Linked DNA regions of Homo sapiens: region 2 is linked to region 1. The links come from fine-mapping of genetic effects on gene expression. A gene starts in region 1. The other region holds a variant in brackets. All regions are shown on one strand. Distances are between the middles of the regions.

Region 1 (5,185 bases):
CAAGGTAGCAGCCAAAGGCATGAGTCCATCCGCCTACTTTGAACCTCCATCAGTGGCAAGAGCTGAACACTGCCTGCTATCCTCCCACATGGCCGGGACTTGCCTGTTGCTTCCTGCCTGTCCCAAGCCTTGCCCTCTGCCCTCCCCGGCTCCCAGCCCTGCCCTACCTGCCTGAGCCAGCTGATCCCAGTCTCTGGGCCTGAGCCCCACCTGCAGAGGTGAGGGCTTACTTCAGAGGTTCTTTCTCCCTAAACAGAGGAAAGCACTGGGGTCAGGATTGAAGGGCACGACCTTCCCATGTTTCTGACTCTCCTCTTCCTCCTCCTCCCATCCCTATCAATTCACCCCAATATTGAGGGGCAGGACCACCTAAGGAATCAGTTGGCATTTAGGACAGTGTGACTGGAGAGTAGAAATGTCACCCCCACTGCCAGCCTTCCACGGCAGCCACCATCGGCAGGTGGTTCCTCGATGTCAGACCAATTTTTCCAGTTAACTGGGTCCCAAGGAGTTAATAGGCAACTGCTTCCTTCTGGCTAAGTCACGCCAGGCCAGGCCTGGCCAGATGGTCCTCAGATTTGGCCTTTTCTCTCCTGCCAGGAGGTCCAGGCCCATTTCATGTAGAAGAGACCCTGCCTGGAATCGGGCCTGAGCATCCCGCATTAGCCACAAATGAGATAGATGATCTGGAGCAAGCCACCTAAATCTCCCTGTCCCTCAGTTTCCACAACCATTAACCAAAGATTAAAAACACATGTCCTGCCAATCCTCTGGGGTTACTGAGCCTCCCGAGTGACTTAATAGGTAGGAAACCTCTGGAGAAAACTAAAGCACAGGTCCCGAGCATGAAACAAGACAGCTGCTAGCATTTATGGAGCAATCACTCTGCACCCTCACCAAAACCTCACAACCACTGTTATTAATCCTAGTTTACATATAAATAAACTGATTGCATAAATTTCCCCCATAGTCTTTCCATTAGTAAGAGGGAAGCCAGAATTTAAATTCTCCCTGCCCAACTCTAGACCCGGGCTCAATAGCGTGGACCACCCAGCATTTGAGGGCCTCCTATCGGGGGAGGCCCAGGGGTGGTCATTGTAGCTGATTTAACTAGTGATATCAATTAGGCACTATTATGATGATGCCAGCTGGCCTATCGAGTTGAGGTGTCGCAGAAATGCCTCCGCTTCCTGTACAGGCCCAGGGCTTCCCATTGGGCCTTCTGATCATCAGAATCTCAGGACTCAGAATCCCAGGACTCAGACGACAGGAGACAGAAAGACGGAAGTTCTCTCGGTTGCCAGTTTCCGCATATCTAAGGGACACATTGCTGGCAGGTCCCCACTCAGAAAGAGACATGGATGGTCACAGTACCCGCCACCTGAGTCTTCCCTGTGTGGAGACACCCTCCTGCCAGTGCGCCCTGACCCAAAGATGTCATCGGATCTTTTTTACTCTTTGTTTCACTGGGAGCAAAAAAGTCACTCTTCAGACAGGTCTCCCACGCTAGGTGAGTCCATAGGCACAGAAGGAACCCCTCATGCATGGGAACTTCATAAAGATTTGCTGATTTTTTCCAGTGTTTGGTTGGGATAGGCGCCCCTATCATCGAACGACACTGGTCACCCAGGGAAGGAAAAGTCTGGAAGTTCCCCCAACTTCACCCCCTAAAGACCACATGGCTCCAGCCTAGGGAAGAGTTAACTTTCTGGCCACTGGAGACAGCGTCCTGCCCGCAGGGTCTGCCCAGCCAATGGCACTCTATGCTGATGATGTCATGCTCCTCCCGCGCCTTCTATTGGGGACTGGACAGCGAATCCTGCTGGAGGCTCAGGCAGCCTAGCTGAGGCAGGGCGGGGGCAGAGGAGGAGGAGGGGGAAGGGCAAGGAAAGGCGAGCAAAGCCACACAGAGCTACTCCTGCCTCATCCCTCCTTCCACTCCCCTGTGCCTTCTGACAGAAGGTGCCCCGGGGGACCGCCCCGTGCTGGAGATGAGAGGCACAGCGGCTTTGGTCCAGAGGAGCGAGCTGAGGGTTCCCATTCCCAACCGCAGAAAACAGACATCCAGCCTGCCCAGCAGGCGGACAGGGAGCAGGGTGCTTAGGGCAAGGGCCAGGATACGGTGCACGCACAGGCGCGCACAGGCACACACGTGCACCCCCAGGCATGCACAGCCACAGCTTCCTTGGCAGCACCCTCCCTCCCCCAGCCCAGACTCCTGCCTTACCTGCCTGAGGACTGAGGGTCCGCATCCAAGCTGCTGCCCCTAGCTGCCCCATCCACGTCGCTGGGCTCTCTGTGGGAGGCAAGAGTAGGGAGGAAGAGCTATGGCTGTGCCCAGCCCCTCACTGTCCCTCCACAGGTCCAGGCCGCATTGGGCTATGGGAGTAGAGGCTGCAACTAGAGCCTTTGAAGCTCTAAGTCCCCCTGCTCTGAGACTGTGCTCTCTCAAGGGTTCCTCAAAATGCCCTCCCAGCCCCGCTGAAGGTTCACGCAGCCCCTGCCCACCTTCAGCTTGGTGGCAGCCCAGCCCCATGCCCCCCCCCCCCGACCAACCGCCAGCCATAGCCCGGTCAGTTTCTCACGGTTGGACTCGGTTGGCAAATCGGCGGCGCCAGAGCATGGCCAGGGTGCTGAGCAGGAAAAGGGTGGTGCACATGGCGCAGCTGCCCCATCCCCTCCCAGGCCAAGTCTGCAGAAGGCCACAGGCGAGGGGCCAAAATGGCCCCAGCCAGCTCTCAGGAGCCACTGCCGTCTGTCCTGCGGTTCCTGCTGGGGATGGATTAGGAGGCTCAAGCTGATTAGTGGGTCAGCGGCCCCGACCTTGTGAGGACTGATTAAGCTCACTGGGCCCAGGTTCTCCCCTCCAGCGGTAGGGTCAAGGCATGCACTGTGGCATTGAGCACGTATTCGGAGTCTCGATCTGATGAGACTGGGCCTTGCTTGCAAGGAGCTGCCACTCTAAACAAATGTGCTGTCAAGTACAATGACTGCAGTAGAGTGACCCAGGAGTTATTCAAGGCGCCTACAGGGCACTTTCAGAGTTGCAGGCATCAGGGCAACGTTTAAAGAGGAGCAAGGGCCTCTGAATTTGCAGTGCACAAGGCAGGATGAGCCCTCAGACAGAAGACGCTGCCGAAGCTACTGACATGAAAGCATGGAGCATCTGCCAGTAACTGCAAGGTGAATGGAGGTGAAGCAATGATGTCACCGTGGAAGCATCAGGAGAGGAGGAAGAAAGGGGAGGAATATTGGATAATGAAGCCAGAGAGACGGGAGACTCAACAGTGAAGGGCTGGCAGTTTTACCCTCTGGACAATCCTCTCCAAACTTTTCTGATTACACGCCCTCTTCAGTAAAAGGCAGAATTCAAGTGTGCACTCACAAAATAGACAGGTGCAGCCACTTACAAATTATATGCTAGACTACTGTACAGATTCATTCCTACACCATACGACTATATTACATTTGCAAAGGATGAGATGAAAAGAAATAGTTACACGATTTCTCCTATTTTCTTTCCACATCCCAAGGGGACCTGTTGGGCAGCCACTTGGTCACACCAACTTTGAGAAGCTGTTCAGTGTGTGTGTGGAGCATGGAGCCAGCCATGGCCACGCTGAGACATGGGTCTGGGAGTGGTGTGAGAACCTGAACCCACCCGCTCCCCTCCAGCCCCTCCAAGACCCCCAGGAGGCATTAGATTTTCATTCCCTCAACAAGGGGGAGACAGTGTCAGAGGCACTGCCTCAGGGTCCCCCAGGCACCTGAACCCTGAGCTCCCAGGAGGGGCCCAGGCTGCAGCTGAGGCTGGCCAGGGTGAGTTCTCCTCGCCTCCCCCGGACCTTAAAGTCGGATTTTAAGAATAAATACATGAACCATAGTGAAAGCGCAGAGCCAACCCTTAGCAATGCTTGGGCAATGGGACATCAAGTCTTGAGCGAGGACAGGGGTCGCCGGGAGCCTGAGTGACATCTCTTCCCAACACTGCCAGGCCCTGTCTGGCCTCAGGCTGTCCCCAGGACTGAGCAGCCGCTGCAGGGCAGGCACCATGGGATTCTCCCCCCACCTCTGGCCCAATCTCACACTGCCCTGGATAGGGCCCACCAGGAGGAAGGATTTGCCTCCCCCAGGCCCGGAATCGGGCCCTTGGTGGCGGCTGAGATGTCCCCAGCAGCCTGCGCCTTCCTCAAGACTTTTTGTCTGCCAGGTCCTGTCTGCCCTATCCGGTGCCTCTCTGGACTTCCTCCGCCACCAGCTGGGCTAGAATTCAGGGCAGCGGCTGGTTCTTGCCTGTCCGTGTCATTCATAAGCCACGGGGGACTTCTGGCCGCCGCCGCCGCGTTCGTGCACCGAGGGCATGGAGGTGCTGGGCGGAAGGAGAGGGGGCGCAGGCCTCTGGCGCCCGAGGTCGGAGGTGCGCTCAAGTTCCGACAGCCGGGGCGGTGGGCGGGCAGGGGGACGACCCCCGTGCTAACCCCCCAGAGCCTGGGCGTCCAGAGCCGTGGGAGTGGCGCCGCGGCCCCCAGCGGCTGGCTCGGGGGCGCGGGGAGAGGCCCGGGCGAGGGGAGCCCAGCTAGGTCCACGGCGGCCGCCGGAGGGGCTCCTGTTCGCCCCCACGGGCGGGCTGGCGGTCGGCCTCGCCGCGAAAGCTCGGGAGTGTTGGACTTTGAGTCAGTTCCCCGCCGCGGGAAGGGTCCGCACGCGCACACTCGCGACGCCGCAAGCACTGGGACCCGGAACCCAGCGCTCCCGGCCCGCGCCCGCCCCAGCGCACTCCTGTGCGGCCCGCGCCGCCCAGCGCCGCGTGACCGCCCATTCCTCCCGGGACCCCCAGCGCCCCGGCCACACCTACCCGAGCCCCGCCCCGCGGTGCAACTCCGCCGTGGCCTGCGGGTGGGCGGGCGGCAGTCGCGTCGCCCCCACCCCGCGCAGCCTTCACCTTGCCGGCATTGGCTCTTACCCACACGGGGCTGGGGGTTTGGAGCGGATTTGTTTTTTTAAACATTTTCCAGCAGACCACATCCCCGCCCCACCGCTGGCTGTCCCCCGCCCCCCGCACATATACCCTGCACACACGCACGCACACACACACACACACCCGGCGCGCACAGACACACGCTCCCTCCCTCCGCGCTCTACCCCTCGCCCGCCCGCCGCGCACGCAGCCGGCCCCGGCTCCCGG
Region 2 (5,185 bases), 610 kb before region 1:
TCATCCTCACAGTTCGTGTGAACAAGTCACACACATCTGCATGCCCACAGACTATGTCCTTAGCACCCGCGCTTGGGAGAACAAGACAAATAACTGTCAAGGTCACTGCCCTGGAAGGACACACAAAATAGTATGAGAGCAACACTCAAGAGGCTTTGTGAATAAAGAAACTCCCATTGCAAGTGAAAGTACCTAACACCAACTCCAACATTAAGAATGTGTCCCGGGGAAGGGAGAGAAACATGAATGGCATCTTCAGAGGCATCGGGGACGTGTGGAAGGACAAGATGGGTAAGATCTGGAGAGACAGATGGGGAATGGCAAACATCTGAGGCAAAGAAGTCTGAAAAGAAAAAAGAAAAGAGGGGGCAGGAAACAGCACTGTGTGTCCGGGCCAACGGGAACAAGACAGAAACAAATGTTCAAGTTCAAGCTGGGAAGTGTGCATAATTATGAAATAAGGTTAAACGGACCAGGCAGAACACAGCCACAAATGGCCTTGCCGAAAAAAGCACAGGAGCTGAGACGTGCGAGGACGGATAACAGGAAAGCCTTCAACACAGGACACACACAATGGAAAGTGTGTGGCAGGGGAGCACAAAGTGACCTAAGGGATGAAAGATGTGAGTGCGCAAAGGAACAAGGGACCCCTGGTCTTTCCCTGCAAAGGGAGGGGCTTACGCTGCAACGATGGCAGTGCTGGGACAGACAGGGACAGAACCAGGTGCCTTGGTTCCTGAAGGCACAGTCTAAAGGGTGTGTCTGCTGAAGGGACAGAGACACTGAAGGGGTTCCTGGAGAAAGCCAGCACTCCTAGGGCACAGTGAAACTGGGATGAGGGCGAGGAAAGGAGAGAGCAAAGAATGAGGTGACCACATCTGCTGTGTAATGGAAATAAGCCCAGACAGAAACGGCACTGGACAGGGTGGCAACTCCTGGGATGCACAGGAGCTAATGGAGCCTCTTCTATCGTGTGTTCCCACTGGTCACAATGAGGACAGCTGTCCTCAGCAGAAGAAAGACCAGAGTCCAAGCCACTATCTCGCCTGCGGCTGTCACCACAAAAATCGGGTTCAGAAGGTGGCCTCTCATGTTCTTCCCTCTCTCCCACAACTCTCCTTAAGGGCTCCTGACCTTGACCTCTCCCACCCTGCCCTCCTACACTAGGTGGCCTCCCGCCTCCTTCATTTTCCCTTTGAAGCCTTTATTAAGGAACCATTAACATGCAGGGGGAGGGGGAGATGCACTTGACAATGTTTAACTTTTAAAGTTTGTGCTTTATCTTAGAAATTTCAAAAAGAAACACTTCAACTCAAGCACCCTAGAATTATACATCCCATTCTAAGTTCCTAATCTGTGGGATCATATCACTATGCTCCCGTGAGATCTTAAACCCTTTAAGGCACAATCAATCAGTGTCCTTCACTGATTAATTTCTCCTCCCCGCAAGCCAGGAAGAGCAGCCCTTTGGTTAAAACTGATCAAACTGTACACCTGACATGTGACCACTTCATTGTATGTAAATTATAACTCAATTTAAAAAATGAGTCCCCCACACCTTTGTCAAAACACAGGACATCTGCAACCATCCCCCCAGAAGGTTCCCTGGTGCGCCTTCCTTGTCAGGTGTGAGGCTTTCGTTTGTGTGTGGCCAAGAAGTTTTGATTTCTCTTTCATAAAATGTTTCAGGTACACATCCCTGGGTAGAAGGAAGAAGCATAGTATGAGAAAAGAACACTAAACTCGAGAATCAGATCTCGGCACTACCTGTGTAAGTTTCACCACCTCGGAGTCTCAGATTCCCCGCCCTCCAAGGGAGGGTTGAGCTAGGTGATTGCTCCAACTCGCTGAAAGCTCTGACATTCTGTTTCTGGGCTGATATCTAACAAAACAACACCATGCAAATGCCTACTGAAAAACCTCCACTTCAATTTTGCTTATGTAAATACCACTCAAGCGAGTTAATGAGAACTTTAACATGTTTTTTTTTTAATGGTACTGACCTCAAAACAAATGGTAAATTTTCATTAAATCAAGTGAGATGCAATTAACATATCTGACCTGACTGTGTACCTATTTATACTAGGCACTTTTTACCTGAACAATTTTCCGGCAATACTAAATTACAAGTAAACTCTTGGTTAAAACAAACAAACAAAGGCATTAAGTTGAGTGAGGCGTTTTCTCCCACTCTCTCACCTCACAGGACTCACATAAACCAGGACTCGACCCACCTCCCGTGACTGCGTGCCGGGCACTGCCGGCCACTCCTGCCGCCACCGTGCGTTCTAGTGAGGCACATTCGCTTTCTGACGTGCTCACAAGTCCGCCGGCGGAAGCTACGGTTCCGTTCTCACCTTAACTGCATATATACCTCTTTCCTCACTCTGAATGCTGAACTGAAAAGGGCATTTTCAGGTTAACTCATTTTACTGTTAGTTTTCCTCAATGACAAAAAAAATTAAGCAAATACTGAGGATTTTATACCATAAAACTACAGTAAGAAATGGGGGCAAAGGACACCACACAAACATCACTCACAGTCTACTTTTGGAAGGAAAAAGGTAACATATTTCATTTTCGGATTTAAAAATGTTTTCTTTATACTACAGGGTGGAAGAATATACGTGCGTGTGTGTGCGTCTGTGTGT[T/G]TGTTTGTTTGTTTTTCTAACAATTCAAAAGAAAATTTCCTGAAGCTGGTGAGGCAAAAAAAAAAGTTTCTAACTAGTAAGTTTTAAATCATAAAAAAAAGAAAAAAAAGGAGAAGAAAGAAAGAAAAAGAAGGGAAATTAACCACTACCTCAGAACAATAGTTTTAAAATGGTTTAATTGTAAAAACTTGGTGGCAGCTCAGAATTTGAATTTCGAGTTCTTCTGTAAAGTCCTGCATGAACTGGCAAGGTAAACGTCACAATTTTGAAAATAGTGAAGTAAGGGAAATAAGGAAGTCTGAACGTTAAACAATCCAAACACCTCCTCTTTTATTAAATCTAACGTTTGGCAAAGAAACCAGCCTTTGCCTCAAACTATCAGGGTTGCATGAACTTTTTAAGCCACACTCAAGTGTTTTGGAGAACATCCCCCACCCTGCCCAACTCTCTGCCCTGTGTCCACCCCGGGCCGTGGGCAGCCACTCTACTTTACCTGGCGATGCCCACTGCCTACCACCCCCACTGCCTCCTCCCCAGCTCCACCAGCCCAGCTCACTGAACAAGGGTCAGGCCTCCCACCTAAGGCAAACAATCCACAGGCTAGCCAATATCCTCAAACCCAGGACCAGGGCAGGGGTCGGGGTGGGGAATGAACTAGATCAAGTTTCTCTCAAGGATGTGAACTATGAAATGTGACAGGAATTGGTCACTTAGAAACTGAAAGAATGCAACAAGAAATGCCACAGAGTTGAACTGGGGCCAGAGGGCTTTCAGACAGCTAAGCACGTCCTCGAGCTGAAGCCACATGGAAAACTAGGAGTGAGCAAAGCAGCCAGCTGGTGGCGGGGTAGAAGGCTCCAGCACATGGAGCCAGGCACAGTCCCACAGGGCAAAATCCTAGAGAAAAACTGTGGCTGAGGCCCCCAGAGCAGCCAGGAACCTCCCTCCACTACCAGGCTCTGGAGCTCAGCCCATCCCAGCTCGAATTCCCGGATTCCTGTGTGATTCCTATCACACTATACATGTTCCCACTCACCAAACTCCTTCCCAAGCTGGCTGGAGTGGGTCTTTGCCTCATACAACCAAAAGCCAAAACAGCACAGATAACATGCAAATGGCAAACATGGTAAGTCAACAACATAAAATACTGTTAACAGCCCTAGCTACACATATTTAAGATGTGTAACTACATCTTAACACACGTAACTTCTTAACACACAGACATCTTAACACACAGAGCTTCTTACCCACACACACAAACCAAAACCTCACACCTGAAAGGGAAGGCGCACCACAGAACCTTCACCAGGGGGATGGATTCAAATGTCCTGTGTTTTCACAAAGGTGTGAGGGATTCTTTTGTTAAAACTAATCAAACTGTACACCTGACACGTGACCATTTCACTGTATGTAAATTATATCTCAAGTACAGTGGCTCACACCTGTAATCCCAGCACTTTGGAAGGCCAAGGCAGGAGGATCACCTGAGGGCAGAAGTTCAAGACCAGCCTGGCCAACATGGAGAAACCCCATCTCTACTAAAAAACAAAACAAAACAAATATATATGTGTATATATACACACACACACACACACACACACACACACACACACATACATACACACACACACACACAAATTAGCCAGGTGCGGGGGCAGGCACCTGTAATCGCAGCTATTCGGGAGGCTGATGCAGAATCGCTTGAACTCAGGAGGCAGAGGCTGCAGTAAGCCAAGATCGCGTCACTGCACTCCAGCCTGGACGAGAGCAAAACTCCGTCTCAAAAAATAAAAATAAAAATAGACCAGGAGAGGTGGCTCACGCCTGTAATCCCAGCACTCTGGGAGACCAAGGCGGGTGGATCACCTGAGGTCAGGAGTTCGAGACCAGCCTGGCCAACATAGAGAAACCCCATCTCTACTAAAAATACAAAAATTAGCGGGCATGGTAGTGCAGGTCTGTAATCCCAGCTATTTGGGAGGCTGAGGCAGAAGAATCGCTTGAACCCAGGAGATGGAGGTTGCAGTGAGCTGAGATCGCGCCACTACAATCCAGCCTGAGTGACAGAGTGAGACGCTGTCTCAAAAAAATAAATAAAATAAATTTTAAAACAAACCCTGTCATGTAAATTCTTCCCGTAAGAGGACTTCTTGTTTTTCAAAACTATTGATCTATATAAATCCCACAAACATACGCTGAGCAGAAGCAGCCAGCTGCTAAAACACCTGCGTTTCTATTTATAGAAGGAACAGAAACAGGTAACAGTCCTCTGTGTATTAGGAGTCAAAACAGTGGCTCACTTGAACCAGGGGAGACTTCTTCCTGGGTTGCCATGTTCTGGTTCCTGACCTTGGTGCCAGTATCCCAGGTGTGCTGAGTGTGACACACGTTTTCATCAGGTGTGTGCTCATGAAAGACACATTCTCCTGTCTGTATTATATTTTCTGGTATGTATGTTATATCTTAATAATAACACAAAAGAGAAAGGAAAAGAAGAAATACCCTACGGTAATCTAAAAATGACTGGAAAAGGT

The links.
Region 2: its variant is fine-mapped to the expression of PRCD in ileum (GTEx, PIP 0.90).

What each region holds. Positions count from the first base shown.
Region 1 is chr17:76,537,616-76,542,800 of GRCh38, reverse strand. PRCD (photoreceptor disc component) reads right to left here and starts at 2,757. Exons shown (of 5, transcript NM_001077620.3): 1 at 2,586-2,757; 2 at 2,228-2,296; 3 at 168-248. The coding sequence starts at 2,659. The coding sequence ends at 227. CYGB (cytoglobin) reads left to right here and starts at 5,092. Exons shown (of 4, transcript NM_134268.5): 1 at 5,092-5,185.
Region 2 is chr17:77,144,180-77,149,364 of GRCh38, reverse strand. All of the region lies in intron 3 of SEC14L1 (SEC14 like lipid binding 1), which reads right to left. Among named protein-coding and RNA genes, the nearest start is that of SEC14L1, 5.8 kb to the right of the region's middle. The variant T/G (reference allele first, on the strand shown) is at 2,652.